Homo sapiens: one gene and its partner. The protein of the gene in region 1 interacts with the protein of each later gene in a biochemical or structural test. Each region holds a gene or a part of one and is shown on either strand. Other genes may lie near its edges.

Region 1 (7,759 bases):
CTATATAATGTTTTGAAAAGCAAGAATGGTACAAAAGCAGAAGACCCAAAGATAATCGTTCTCTACTTTGGGGACTTGCTGGGCATCAGGCCTACAGACAGGATAGCTCCTGATCCCACCCAAGGGTCAGACGCTCCAGGCTGGGACATTCTCAGGTATGGCTGGGAAGCATAGGTCTTTCTTTCCTCCCTCTATCACAGGTCTTTAAAGAAAACAAAATTAAATTAAGTTGCCTCCCACTTCATCCCCCAAATACCTTCCCCAACCAGTTAAAGGAATTATGATATTCTTAAAATACTGTGTTGCTGTAAAAAAGCATCCTTACATACTGACATGGAAAGATCTCGTTACGTGATGACAATAAGGTACAGAACAGAGTGTATTTACTGCCATTTGTATAGATTTTGTGGGGAAATATATTTACAAATTTGCTTGCATATGCGTAAGGACTTCTGGAAGGAAGCCCATGTTGGTTGCCTCTGGGTGGGGAGGAGAACTAGGAGGCTAGGGGCAGAAGTAGGAGGGAAACTTTCCTTATATACTTTCTAAGCTTTTTGAATTTTGAAGCATGGGAATGTATTATGTATCTGATCATTTAAATCGTTAAAATTAAAACATACAAAACAACTAAAAAAACTTTTTCACACATTGTGACCACATTGCCTGAAATTCTGTTATAACCTATTCCTGAGAGCTCACAAGGGAACATCCCTGGGAGGGTTTTGATGAGTGAGACTCTCAGCCATTCACACTTTGAAGGTAATGAGCTCAATCAGAGAGCTTTTCTAACACTTAGCCATAGAAATTGGAGCCATGGGGTACTTCTGGTGAGGAAGTCTGGGATCATGGTGTTACAAGAAAGGACAGCAACTCTAGCTAGGGCCCGGGGGAGACCAAGGACTCTGAGATGTTAGAGAAGGGCATAGAAAGAGATGTGGTTGGGCCAAACCCAGAAGAAATGTCCTTTTTATATTTGGCTCACAGTCTGCCATAGGCCAAGCACAGCTGTCACTTCCCTCTTGTCAGGACTTTCCACACATGTACCCTGGGAGGCCAGGGAAATGAAGAATGGAGAGCAGAGGATTAGGGCTACTTGGTAATGCTGGAATGATCTACTATGCAAGGGAAACATTTTGTCCTCTGTGTTCACATCTGGGGACGATGTAGAGGAAATTGTGATCAAGGAGAAAGGAAGCTCTGGCATATGCCTAGAAGTTGTTTAAGAGGGGGAAGTAGAAAAGACTTGGTTTACTTCTCTCTTATATTCCTCTTGCTCTTCTTTCAGGGTCATCTCTATGAACACCTGCTGCAGCTTCTCATTGCAGTAGTTGATCACAAATTGCTCAAAGCTATTATCCTGAGAGAGGGAGCACAGGTTAGAGAGCTCACTCCAAGACTGTTTCTCCGTCTCAGTCCTACCTCCCCTCCCTCACATCCCCCCTGTGAGCCTGTCCACCTCTAATCCTAGGGGAGCAGGGTGCTGAGGTGAGGCACTCTCACCTCTAATATCTCAAAACCGTAGATATCAAGGACTCCCATTACCTTCTTCTTTTCCCCGATGCCCACCTGAAGAGGAGAGAAAGATAAATCTGAGGACAGGCCCCCTCTGCACACCAGGCCAGGTCCTTCTGGAGCGGATGGGGTTGGAGTAGGGGGCAAACAGAACTAGCAAGAGCTTTGCCAAACTGGAAAGGAATTGTTGTGATTTTACTCTCCCTCCTCCACACACTAGAGAACAAGCAAAGAGGGAGGAAAGGAGGAAAAGGAAGATACAGATAGATTCCAGGATGGTGCTCCGATGGTACCAGGTAGAAAGACAATAAAACCTCTCAGGACAATAACCATCTCTTATATTTGTAGAGCATTTTACAAAAGATTCCATGTCTTTATTTATCATAACCTTATAAGGTATTATTGTTCCCATTTTACAGATAACAAAGTCAAATTTCAGAAGGATAGGTACTTACCAAGCCTAGACTCAAATTCCTTCTTATTCTACTACCTTTCAGTAATAGCTTCTAAATAGATGGCACTTCCATGTGGATAATTTGTTAATAACAGCTTTACTGAATATAATTCACATACCATGTACAATTCAGTGGCTTTTTAGTATATTCAAAAGGTTGTACAACCATCACCACTATCTAATTTCAGAACATTTTCACCACCCCACAAAAGAAATCCTATACCCATTATTAGTCACTCCCCATACCCCTCTCCCCCCAGCCCTTGGCATTCATTGATCTACTTCCCATCTCTATGAATTTGCCTATTGTGGACATTTCATATGAATGGAATCAAACAAAATGTGGTCTTTTGTGACTACCTTCTTTCACTCAGCATAATGTTTTCCAGGCTCATCAATCTTGAAGCATGTATCAGTACTTCATTCTTTTTATGGACAAATAACATTCTTTTGTACAGATATACCACATTTTGTTTATCTCTTCATCAGTTGATGGACATTTGGGCTGTTTCTACTTTTTGGCTATTACAAATAAGGCTTCTGTGAACATTTGTGCACAAATTTTAGTGAGGACATCTAATTTCAGTTCTCTTGGGTATATACCTAGGAGTGGGAATTGTGGTATCATATGGTAACTATTTACATAATTTATCTGATCCTTATTAAACCCTGTGAAGCAGGTAGGAATGCATTAGTGTTTCTTAAATAGTTTTTTATTTAACTTATTTTTTTTCATAAAATATAGAGTTGGGGTCTCACTATATTGCCCAGACTGGTCTTGAACTACTGAGCTCAAGTGATCCTCCCACCTCAGCCTCCCAAAGTCCTGGGATTACAGGCATGGACCACCACACCCAGCATATTAGTGTTTCTTAGTGGGCATTTCCAAATCAGGACACTGAGGCCCAGAACCTTTGTGAAATTGAAAGTCCACATGACTTTTTACTTAATTGAAAGTCCACATGACTTTGAATTAAGTAAGTAGATGATATATCCAGATTGTCTAACTCAAAAGCCAGTGATGTTTCCATGACAACACACTGTTAGAAGGAACTGTACCCTCCCCATCATCCTCCCTACTCTGCTCATCTCAGAAACCAAGATATAGGGCTGGTGACAGGGCAGGAAGGTGAGGCAGACAGGAGAGCATGGAGAAAGCAGAGCGGCCACTTGCCTTGATGCTCTCATTGATTCGATTCACTATCCAGTCAAAGAGGCGGCTGTAGATGTTCTTAGCCAGGGCGTCCCGAGCATACTGAGCCTGTGGGTGAGGCACAGCTGATTAGGGTGGCATCACAGAACAGGGTCGAAACAGCCCCCTCCACTCCAGTGAGCTCCTTACCTGCATAACATTCAGTGCAGTGACCACCTTTTCCTTGGCTGTTTCCATGGTCCTCGAGCACAAAGCTCTCTCTACTTCTTCTGAATTCAAGCCCACCATCTCCCCAATCTCCCGAACACCTGGGATAATGAGAAAGTACAGCATGTCCTTAGAGGCAGCTTTCTCTCAGGGGAGGGAGTGCAATCTGATAAGTGAAACTGCCTGAGACACTGGTGTCCTGGGGTCTCACTGGAGAAGTCATTGCAGCCAACCCAGAACATGGCCCTGGAGGAATCTCAGGGAGTTGGGGGACAGAAGAAAGGGGATCTGGGCATTTTGCATGTATCATCTACTTTAATATGAGAATCTCCTGAATTAGGTGTGATTATCCCCATTCTGCAGAAGAATCAACTCAGACTCAGAGAATTTCCAGACCTAGATATATCAAATTTCAAAAGCTCATTCCAATATGCTTCATCGGGAGTTCTCAGTGAGTCTGTTTAGGGGAGAACTCAGGAGTGGGCTGAGTGGGACTGCATCAGGGTGAGATCAATTATGCTAGAGATGGTAGAAGGACACGACTTGTAGTAGGAAATTCAGGGTCTGGGTAGGAGCTCCAGCAGGCTGGGATGCAGACCTCTCCCATCACGGATGCCACTTGCTGGTATCCCACTGGCCTGGAACTCATCAGCCACCAACACGTTCCCCAGCTTTAGCACCATGGATGTCACCTCTAGCACTTGTCGAATCTCCTCCTCCGAGAACCCAATCACTGCCATTGCACTCTTAGGCAGAAAGCAGAAATCAAAAGCTGAACTGTTGGTGCCAGTCCAATGCGAATAGAGGATGACCTAAGGGCCCAAGCCTGCCTCACCCTGGGCACCCACCTGTACAGCCCTGAAGCTGGAGGCGTCGTCCATGCCATCCACTCTGGATACTTCATGATTCAGATAGGCATAGCCAGTTGTATCCCGCTCAAGCTTCAGGGCCTCTGGGAGGGCCAGTGTTGGGGAAGATGGTTAGTACCCAGGCTCTCTGGAGCCCTCCAGCCTTGACACCTCACAGCCCTTGCCCTAATGGATTCATTCACTTATCCAAAGGAGTCATTTTTGTTTTGGGTTCTTCCCCTGCCTCCTTTGTTTTGGGATCATTAATTCCTGTGATGATAGACTAATTTTTGTTGTTGTTGAGACAGGGTCTCACTCTGTCACACAGGCTGGAGGGCAGTGGTGCGATCTCAGCTCACTGCAAGCACCACCTCCCAGGTTCAAGTGATTCTCATGCCTCAGCCTCCTGTGTAGCTGGGACTATGGGTGCATGCCACCACGCCTGGCTAATTTTGGTATTTTTAGTAGAGATGGGGTTTCTCTATGTTGGCCAGGCTGGTCTTGACTCCTGCACTCAAGCAATCCACCCGCCTCGGCCTCTCAAAGTGCTGGGATTACAGGCATGAGTCACTCGGCCTAACAGACTAAATTTTTAAGTATACTTTTAAGTAGTGTTTAGGGTTTTGATGCTCATATTGATTGGGTTTTCCCCCAACTTTTATGAAACAAAACCCTCATTTTACTCTTCTCCCTACCCTCAGGGTTCTAAACAATAAAAATAAACAAGCAACCCTTCCATCCTACGCAGGTGCCTCTGGACGGTGAAGGTAAGGGGAGAAGGGTAAGCGCATATCTCCTGCCTGCCCCCAGCCTCAACTCTTGGCGTGGGTTGCTCATTCATTGTTTGAACACCAAACACCAATAAAGTGGCAGGTAGCATGTTCCCTGACCCTGACACCTCTTCTGAAAAGTTTTCTCTGATGCTGAGGGCCTGAGCCAAATGGCTGTCTTGCATTCCCCACTGGTGAATCTATATCCCAGCCCATATCATATGGGCTAGGTTTTGTTTTTTTCTGTCTCTCCCATAAATGAGCAACTTGTGGGTTGGGACTGTGTTTCTCATCTCCATATTCTGTGTGCCTTTCTGGCATGCAGGAAATTTTCTCTTTTTAATAAATGAATCAAGTGAATGATCAAAGCTGTTTCCCTAGGATGGGAGGGATTCGGTTAATCATGGAGTTTGAGGGATGTCAATTATCTGGTATGCAAATGATCTGAGAATCAGGGAGTATCCCTCAAACTATAGTCTAATGGCAGCTCCCCCAGCACACAAAGTTTGAAACAAGGGCCTGCTAAGGAGGGTATCTGGAGGGAGAATGAGTCAGAATGTCTGGGGATGATGATACCTGGGAGACCTCATCTAGAGTTGATTTAAACCAATAGATGACAGACCAACCAGAACAAGACACTAATGCCCATGATGCAGACAAGTTGAACATAACCAAAACTATTAAGCCAGGAAAGAGCATGAGATCTGCAGGGGTTCCTGAAGATCACAGAGATCTCCAAGAGTGGAAAAGGAGATAGCACAGGTCTATCATAGAATCACCAGAAACCAAAGAGACATTCTTAGGGGCCAGACACCCACGGTGCTCACAGCCAGAGAGGAGATTGGGAGGCAAACTCCAGTAGGGCTTAAAGTCCACCAGACACTCCAGTGATGCCCACCCAGAGCCACTTCAGGCCAGTCCAGCATCCAGGCTGTGATGGACCCTTCCCCAGGCCAAGCCAAGGGGCTCTAGGTCTTCTGCTCTTATAGCCAGCTGCACAGGCCTGATGGCCCCGATCACACAATATTACAATGGATCTGCTCACACACCTCTTATCCCTAGAAGACTATAAGTTCTTCGAGGACAGGGTCATGTCTTACTCAACTCTGTATCCCTAGAGGCTAGCATAATATTTGATCATAGGTGTTCAAGAGATGTTGAATGAATGAATAAATGAATGAGTGAATGAATGAATGAAAAGAAAATCAGGAACAGGGTCCTAGGTAAGGCAGATGTAGACCCAGGACAGCTTCAACTAGAGTTCACTGAAAGTTCCTGAACACTTACAACATTCTGCCTGCTTCCCTGCTTTAATTAAATCCCCTTAAGTTGAAGGTAGGAAGGAAAGTAGATGGATATAAGTGTTTTATATTTGAAGCCAGCTCAGGGAAAGCAGAACCCAGGCAGGAAAGAGGAACGAGAACAGTGAAGAGGCAAGAAGGCATATCCCTGGCAATAAAACCCCAGAAAAGGAAGAGAACACAGGGGTAAAGGAATTTGTTCCCAACAATGAGTGGGTGAGGCTGAGAATGGGAAATGCAGCAAGGAAAATCTGGGAGGCTCAAGGGAAGAGGGCTGTAGGGGCCCAGAGGGAACAGGGGTTCTGGGACTGAATGGAGGTTGGGGACTTTGCCATGTGTCACTCATGAGGACACTTTCCCCATGCAGGCACATACTCAGCAGCTGTTCATCTGCTCCAGCCAGCAGCTGATAGAAGATGTGGAAGTTCCTTTCTCCTTTGAGCTGCTTCACTAATCGGGATTTCTCAAGCAGATCTGGCAGAGAATTAGAAAAATAATATCCTGAGGGCCTGGGAGATGCCGTAGCTTCTCCAGCCCTACTGGAGAATGCCCCCATCGCCGGCATTCCTAGTGGTTGGGAAGTCTCCTTGACGTCTAACATTCTGCCTTTCTACAGGAACAGATTAGCAGAAAGGGCCATGGGAGGCAGGTGGAAGACAGGTGAGTGGAATTGGGGAGACACGTACAGTTTGTGATGACACCACCGAGGGGGGATCCCTTGAAGTCAAATTCAATATCCATGTATTTTCCCTTCAGAGAGAGACCAGAGAGAGAGACTTAGCTTCTTCCTCTTCTCACCACCCTGCCTGGAAGGGGTCTGTGCCACATTCCTCCCTCTTAAGCCCCCACATCCTCTCTTCCCAGGTGGGGAGACATTTACTCACAAATCGGGAGGAATTGTTGTTGCGAATGGTCTTGGCATTGCCAAAAGCTACAGAGATGAGGAGGGGAGAAGTGAAACTCTAGAGAAGGGAAAGGAGGAAGGGCTTCCAGTCCTCATGACAATCTCAGATTTTTCTGGGTCGAACAAGAGAGGTGATTTTGCAGCACTGGGGAAGAGGGTCTAGGGCTCAGTGATTCTGGGGGTTAGATGGAGGGTGGAGAGGGCAGAGAGCAGAATTCTCACCCTCCAGCACTGGGTTAGACTGTAGCAGCTGCTCCTTCACAGAGTTCACCTGCTCTCCTTTCCCACAGACGGCAGCCACATAAGACATCACCAGCTTGCTGGCCTCTGTGCAGGCAAAACGCTCTCATGGGTCCCCACCCAGGACTAGCCCATCCCCCCACCTCCTTAACTTGCTTCACCCCAGTGCCTCACCACCCCTTGGAGTCAGAAAAAGTGGAAAGGAAGTTCTGTGGGGTGGAGGGTCAGGTCTAGGTCTGGCTTGCAAAGAGACAAGGAAGCAGTTCCAGAGGTGACTCCATGTGTTCCCCCAGCCAGGGGCCTCACCAGTCTTCCCTGATCCACTCTCGCCTGTGATGAGGATACACTGGTCTCGGTCCCTGTCCCTCAG
Region 2 (7,759 bases), on another chromosome or scaffold:
CGTGTCCCGGGGGCCCCCACTCACCTGGCTGGCTCCTTTGTTGGTGCCCATCTGCAGGCTGATGGTCGCCTGGTCCAGAGGCTGGTCTGTGCCCAGCTTGGGGTCGTAGAGGTGGCGCCGGGTGCCATAGGCCGTCATGCCCTGCTGGCTGGCAAACTTGTTGGTGCCCATCTAGGAAGCCAGAAGGAGAATCACACCAATAATTACAGACCTCATCATGGGCCATGAGGCATAGCTGATGGGAGAGGATGAGGCGCCGCTTTATCATTTTTTTCAATTTTTATTTTATTTTATTTATTTTTTTTTGAGACGGAGTCTTGCTCTGTTGCCCAGGCTGGAGTGCAGTGACATGATCTCAGCTCACTGAAATCTCCATCTTGCACATTCAAGCAATTCTCCTGCCTCAGCCTCCGGAGTAGCTGGGATCACAGGTGGGCATCACCATGCCCGGATAATTTTTTGTATTTTTAGTAGAAATGGGGTTTCACCATGTTGGCCACGCTGGTCTCGAACTCCTGACCTCAGGTGATCCACCCACCTCACCCTCCCAAAGTGCTGGGATTACAGGGGTGAGCCACTGTGCCTGGCCCATTTTTTAGTTTATTTTTATATTTTATTTTGTTCTATTCTATTTTTTTGTTTTATTTTATTTTATTTGAGATAGCATCTCACTCTGTCGCCCAGGTTGGAGTGCAGCGGCACAATCTTGGCCCACTGCAACCTCTGCCTCCTGAGTTCAAGCAATTCTCCTGCCTCAGCCTCCTGAGTAGCTGGGACTACAGGTGTGCCCCACCACACCGGCTAGTTTTTGTATTTTTGGTAGTGACAGGGTTTCACCACGTTGGCCAGGCTGGCCTTGAACTCTTGACTTTAAGTGATCCGCCTGCCTCGGCCTCCCGAAGTGCTAGGATTACTGGCATGAGCCACCATACCCAGCCCATTTTCATTTTTAGAGACAGGGTCTCACTCTGTCGCCCAGGCTGGAGTCCAGTGATGCAATCATTGTAACCTTGAACTCCTGGGCTCAAGTGATTCTCCCACTTCAGCCTCCTAAGTAGCTGGGACCACAGGCAGACACCACTGCATTTGGCTAAACTCTTAAATTTGTTGTAGAGATGGCGGTGGAGGGGGGTTCTATTTTGCCCAGGCTGGTCTGAAACACCTGACCTCAAGCAATCCTCCTGCCTCAGCCTCCCCAAGTGCTGGAATTACAGGTGTGAGCCACTGCACCCCGCCTGAGGCATCCTTTCGAGACTGGAAACTGAGGCCCAGAGTGGGCCTATCACATGACTGACTTCTAGCATTGAAGTTCCAGCCTGCCACGCATCAGCTGGAAGATCTGTGCAAAAGCGAGCCAGCTTCTCCGGGTCTCAGTTTTCTCATCTGCGGAAAGGGTATGTTGATAACAAGCACCTGTCTGCTGGGGTGTTGGCAGAGTGAGTGAGTTTGTGAATGGAAGATGAGCATAAGCACAGTACCCGGCCTATAGTATAGTTAATGCCAAATATCCTGTCCCCAAAAGCCTTCAGACATCAGGGTGCCCTCCTGGCCTCTATGACCTCTGCGCAGTGAGGACAGGGCGGTACCTGCAGCCCAATGATGTTCCGCCCTTCTCTTAGCTTCCCCGGCTCGAATTTCCGCTCCTGCTTCTCTGCGTACTTCACTCCCACGTTCACCTTGTTTCCTTTCGTCTTCGCCTAGGTGGGGCAGGGAAAGCAGGGACTGACAAGGGGGCCTCCAGGCTGCACAGTCCCCTTGGACACTGTTTTTTTGTTGTTGTTGACACAGAGTCTCGCTCTGTTGCCCAGGCTGGAGTGCAGTGGCGTGATCTCAGCTCACTGCAAGCTCCGCCTCCCGGCTTCACACCATTCTCCTGCATCAGTCTCCCTAGTAGCTGGGACTACAAGCGCCTGCCACCATGCCCGGCTAATTTTGTTTTGTAGTTTTAGTAGAGACAGGGTTTCACCATGTTAGCCAGGATGGTCTCAATCTCCTGACCTTGTGATCCACCTGTCTCGGCCTCCCAAAGTGCTGGGATTACAGGCGTGAGCCACCGTGCCCGGCCAACACTGTTTTTTGTTTTTTGTTTTTTTTTTTTTGAGACGGAGTCTTGGCTCTGTCACCCAGGCTGGGCAGTGGCACGATCTCGGCTCACTGCAGACTCCGCCTCCCGGGTTCAAGCGATTCTCCTGCCTCAGCCTCCTGAGTAGCTGGGATTACAGGCATGCGTCACCACGTCCAGCTAATTTTTGTATTTTTAGTAGAGACGGGATTTCACCATGTTGGCCAGACTGGTCTCAAACTCCCGGCCTCAAGCAATCCGCTCACCTTGGCCTCCCAAAGTGCTGGGATTACAGGTGTGAGCGACCGCGCCCGGCCCCCTTGGACGCTGTTGACAGCACCTGCTCCCCGATCCCTGCCCCCCGCTCCGCCACCTTCACTGGGCTCAGGAGCACAAGTGGCCACACCTGCATCCCAGCCCAGGCTGCCCACCACCCCCTGCCCAGCCTGCAACCACACTCACCATGCTGGCCAAAGCCAGGAGGGTGGACTGCACCTGTGTATGGTTGGTGTTCTCAAACAGGTCGTTGGCCTCAAAAATGTCGTGGGGCTTCACCCCATACTTGGTGATGGCCTTGATGAAGTTGCCGATGTTCTCCAGCTAGAGGGGGGCAGGTGGTGGTCACTGGGTGGGGAGGGGAGGTCTGAGGGGCTTGCGGGCAAGGATGGAAGAGATTGTGTCTGGGCTCACCTGGTGCCAATTTTGGGTTGACTCATTGATCTTCTTCACGGAGCCTGGCTGCAGCTTATTGATGAATCTGAGAAGAGTGGGGAAGGGGTAAGAAAGGTGTCCCCCCAGGGTTGGGCACGGTGGCTCACGCCTGTAATCCCAGCACTTTGGGAGGCCAAGGCGGGTGGATCACGAGGTCAGGAGAGCGAGACTATCCTGGCCAACATGGTGAAACCCCATCTCTACTAAAAATACAAAAATTAGCCAGGCGTGGTGGCACATGCCTGTACTCCCAGCTACTCAGGAGGCTGAGGCAATCACTTGAACCCAGGAGGCGGAGGTTGCAGTGAGCTGAGATTGCAGCACTGCATTCCAGCTTGGGGACAGAGCGAGACTCCGTCTCAAAAAAAAAAAAAAAAGAAAGAAAGGTGTCCCCCACTCCCGCTCTCCAGCCCAGCCCAGCAGGAGGAGGGTGACGGGATGACCACAAGGGGCCATGCCATACCCTAGCGTCACTTCTCCCTGCAGTCAGCTCTCAGCTGCAGCCCCTCCAAACCACCCAAGCACACACACAAATGGGACACTGATGCCAAGGAGCTAGACTCAGGTCCCAGTCAGAAAGCCTGCTTATCCAAGGTGTGTCCGAGTCTCTGGGATCTCCGAAGCCTCACTGGCAGGCGTGTCTCAGCATCCTTTTCTCTTGTAGACAGCAGGAAGCCCACAAGGGCCTCTTCTCTGACTCACTCCTTTAATGATCTCGCCTCTTTTTTCTTTTCTTTTCTTTTTTTTTTCTTTTTGATGCAGGGTGTGGCTTTGTCGCCCAGGCTGGAGAGCAGTGGTGCAATCACAGCTCACTGCAGCCTCAACTTCCCAGGCTCCAGCGATCCTCCCACCTCAGCCTTCCGAGTAGCTGGGATCACAGGTGCGCACCACCATGCCTGGCTTTTTTTTTTTTTTTTTTTTTGGTAGAGAGGGGGTTTCACTGTATTTGTATTGCCCAAGCTGGTCTTGAACTCCTGGGCTCAAGCGATCCTCCTGCCTCAGCCTCCCAAAGCGCTGGGATTACAGGCATGAGTGACAGCACCTGGCCTCATTCAGTGTCTTGACTTTAAGTGCCTCCATATGCCAGCAACTCCCTCATCTCCCTGCAGCTTGGGTTTCTTACCATCTCATTCAGCTCTCTCCATGGGTGCCTGGGTGTCTCAAATCAAACTCACCCTGCTCCAGACTCCTGACATGCAGCTTCCCCCTCCAGACTCCCCCCTCCCTCCACCTTCCCTGCCTAGCAGTGCCCCCTTCTAGGTGCTCAGCCAGAGCCCTTGGACTTGCCCCCAACTCCCCCTTTCTCCTTCTCTCAGCCTCATGTCCAGTCCCTCCAAAGTTCTTTGGCTCTGCCTTTTAATGAGTCCAGAAAACCACCCACTGCTCCCCGCCACCTCCACCTGGGTCTCAGCCACCAGAGTCTGTTTCCTGGCCTCTTGTAATGAGCTCCCAACTTCCACTTCATCCCCTACAGACCCACCCTTCTTCATCCAGCAGCCAGAATTTTTTTTTTTTTTTCCGAGATGGAGTCTTGCTCTGTCACTCAGGCTGGAAGGCAGTGGCGGGATCTCGGCTCACTGCAACCTCTGTCTCCTGGGTTCAAGCAATTCTCCTGCCTCAGCCTCCTAAGTAGTTGGGATTACAGGTGCCTGCTACCATGCCCAGCTAAATTTTGTGTATTTTTAGTAGAGACGCGGTTTCACCATGTTGGTCAGGTTGGTTTCGAACTCCTGACCTCAAGTGATATGCCCACCTCAGCCTCCCAAAGTGCTGGGATTACAGGCATGAGCCACTGCCCCTGGCCCAGAATGGCCTTTTTTAAACAGTTCAAGTTACCGTCCAGTTCCAAATCCTCCAGGAGCCTCCCATTGCCTTCAGAATGAAATCCTAAGTCCTCTGCCTAAAATGCCCTCTGTAGAACTGGGCACAGTGGCTCACACCTGTAATCCCAGTGCTTTGGGAAGCCGAGACAGGAGGATGGCTTGAGCCTAGGAGTTTCAGATCAGCCTGGGCAACATGGTGAGACCCGTGTCTCTACAAAAAAAAAAAAAAAAAAAACCCGAAAACTTCACCGGGCGTGGTGATGTGTGCCTGTAGTTCCAGCTACTGAGGAGGCTGGGGCTGAAGAGGCTGGGGTGGGAGGATCAGTTGAGCCTAGGAAGTCGAGGCTGTAGTGAGCTATGATTGCACCGCTGTACTCCAGCCCGGGCACCAGAGCAAGACTCTGTCTCTAAATAAATAAATGAAATAAAATGCCCTCCACCATCTGACTCTCAGTTCACTCTGCGACTTCATCTCCACTTCTGCTCAATCATTTGGTGCTCGTCACGCCAGCCTCCTTCTTGTTTCTTGAACACCCCAAGCACGATCCTACCTCACGCCTTTGCACTGGTGGCCCCCTCTGCTTTGCCTCAGGTCCCCTGAGCCCTCCCTCACTTCATCTAAGGTTCTGTTCAAATGTCACCTCTTCAGAGAGGCCTCCCAGACCACTCTCTAGGAAACTGCAGACTCTCCACCCGCAGACATATACCTGACCCTCCCATCTTCCCTTCCGCTTGAGTTTTCCCCAGGACACTTACGACCACAAATCTGTGATTATTTGATCAATTATATGATTGATCTCCTCAACTGGACTAAAAGTCCTTGAGCTCTGAGTCGAGTCTGTTCTGTTCACTGTTCCCAGTGCCTAGGCCAGAGCCTGGCACACAGCAGGAACTCATAAATGCTTCTTTTGTGAATGAATGAATGAATGAATGAGTGAATGACCGGAGTGCGTGGGTGACTGCACTACACTCTTTTTTTTTTTCTTATACTTTAACTTCTGGGGTACATGTGCACTATGTGCAGGTTTGATACATAGGTATACATGTGCCATTTTGGTTTGCTGCACCCATCAACTCGTCATTTACATTAGGTCTTTTTTTTTTTTTTTTTTTTTGAGACGGAGTCTCGCTCTGTCACCCAAGCTGGAGTGCAGTGGTGGGATCTCGGCTCACTGCAAGCTCCGCCTCCCGGGTTCACGCTATTCTCCTGCCTCAGCCTCCCGAGTAGCTGGGACTACAAGCGCCTGCCACCACGCCCGGCTAATTTTTTGTATTTTTTTTAGTAGAGACAGGGTTTCACCGTGTTAGCCAGGATGGTCTTGATCTCCTGACCTCGTGATCCGCCTGCCTCAGCCTCCCAAAGTGCTGGGATTACAGACGTGAGTCACCGCGCCCGGCCCACTCTTTTATTATTATTATTATTATTATTATTATACTTTAAGTTCTAGGGTACACATGCACAACGTGCAGGTTTGATACATAGGTATACATGTGCCATGTTGGTTTGCTGCACCCATCAACTTGTCGTTTACATTAGTTTTTTTTTTTTTGAGACAGGGTTTCACTGTTGCCCAGGCTGGAGTGCAGTGGCGCGATCATAGCTCACTGCAGCCTTGACCTCCAGGGCTCAAGCGATCCTCCCACCTCAGCCTTCCGAGTAGCTGGGACCACAGGCGCATGCCACCATGCCAAGCTAATTAAAACAAAAATGTTTTGTAGAGATGGAATCTGGCTATGTTGCCCAGGCTGGGACTGCACTGTTTGACGTCTGAGCAGTCCTCTGCCTGAGCTGGGACACCAGCATGCCTACCTCCCCACCTGCCAATTCCTTGTTCCTAGTGGATGGGAATGGAACAAGGTAAACACCCCCCACACCCCTTCTTCCCAGCATCTAGGACTTGATGAAGCTGCACCTTCAAAGTCTTCCCGAGGCCACTCACAGTCACTCTGCCCTGGGTCAGACTCAAATGCAGATCGGGCGCAGGCTGGGTTTAGGGCCCTGCTATGCATTAAGATTGCAGTGGAGCCGGGCGCGGTGGCTCACGCCTATAATCCCAGCACTTTGGGAGGCCGAGGTGGGTGGATCACAAGGTCAGGGGTTCGAGACCAGCCTGACCAACATGGTGAAACCCCGTCTCTACTAAAAATACAAAAATTAGCTGGGCGTGGTGGCGGGCACCTGTAATCCCAGCTACTCAGGAGGCTGAGGCAGGAGAATTGCTTGAACCTGGGAGGCAGAGCTTGCAGTGAGCCAAGATCATGCCACTGCACTCCAGCCTGGGTCACAAAGCAAGATTCCATCTGAAAAAAAAAAAAAAGATTGCAGTGGAACTGGGGCTTGGGAGCTGTTAGGGTTTTCACCTCCCTCAGCAATGAGGTTTTGAGGCGAGGAGAAAACCAGGGCCGGCAGGGTGCAGTGGTTCATGCCTGTAATGCCAGCACTTTGTGAGACTAAGGCGGGTGGATCACTTGAGGTCAGGAGTTCGAGACCAGCCAGGCCAACATGGCAAAATCCCGTCTCTACTAAAAATACAAAAGTTATCCGGGCAAGGTGGTGGGCACCTGTAATCCCAGCTGCTCAGGAGGCTGAGACACAAGAATCACTTGAACCCGGAAAGCAGAGGTTGCAGTGAGCTGAGATCATGTCACTGCACTCCAGCCCGGGTGACAGAGGAAGACTCCATCTCAAAAAAAAGAAGAAGAAGAAGAAGGTCGGGCGAGGTGGCTCATGCCTGTAATCCCAGCAATTTGGGAGGCCGAGGCAGGTGGATCACTTGAGGTCAGGAGTTTGAGACCAGCCCGGTCAACATGGTGAAACACTGTCTCTACTAAAAAAAAAAAAAAAAAATACAAAAATTAGCCAGGCGTGGTGGCATGTGCCTGCAATCCCAGCACTTTGGGAGGCCAAGGCAGGTGGATCACTTGAAGTCAGGAGTTCAAGACCAGCCTAGTCAACATGGTGAAACTCCATCTCTACTGAAAAAAAAAAAAAAAAAACAAAAATTAACCGGGCATGGTGGCACGTGCCTGTAATCCCAGCACTTTGGGAGGCTGAGGTAGGTGGATCAATTGAGGTCAGGAGTTCGTAACCATCCTGGCCAACATGGTGAAACCCCATCTCTACTTTAAAAAAATACAAAAATTAGCCAGGCATGGTGGTGCG

Evidence for each region. The genes of interacting proteins can lie anywhere in the genome.
Region 2: the proteins of MYO1A (region 1) and CNN1 form a complex in vitro, tested with the Homo sapiens proteins (one study listed by BioGRID).

The regions. Positions count from the first base shown.
Region 1 is NC_000012.12:57,039,932-57,047,690, forward strand, and holds part of MYO1A (unconventional myosin-Ia), read right to left. Parts: coding exon 7,696-7,759; intron 7,477-7,695; coding exon 7,372-7,476; intron 7,177-7,371; coding exon 7,130-7,176; intron 6,996-7,129; coding exon 6,932-6,995; intron 6,720-6,931; coding exon 6,621-6,719; intron 4,279-6,620; coding exon 4,175-4,278; intron 4,073-4,174; coding exon 3,925-4,072; intron 3,428-3,924; coding exon 3,309-3,427; intron 3,228-3,308; coding exon 3,141-3,227; intron 1,567-3,140; coding exon 1,501-1,566; intron 1,358-1,500; coding exon 1,253-1,357; intron 1-1,252. UniProt on the Homo sapiens protein: Involved in directing the movement of organelles along actin filaments.
Region 2 is NC_000019.10:11,541,735-11,549,493, reverse strand, and holds part of CNN1 (calponin-1), read right to left. Parts: intron 2,820-7,759; coding exon 2,753-2,819; intron 2,663-2,752; coding exon 2,525-2,662; intron 1,698-2,524; coding exon 1,587-1,697; intron 172-1,586; coding exon 25-171; intron 1-24. UniProt on the Homo sapiens protein: Thin filament-associated protein that is implicated in the regulation and modulation of smooth muscle contraction. It is capable of binding to actin, calmodulin and tropomyosin. The interaction of calponin with actin inhibits the actomyosin Mg-ATPase activity.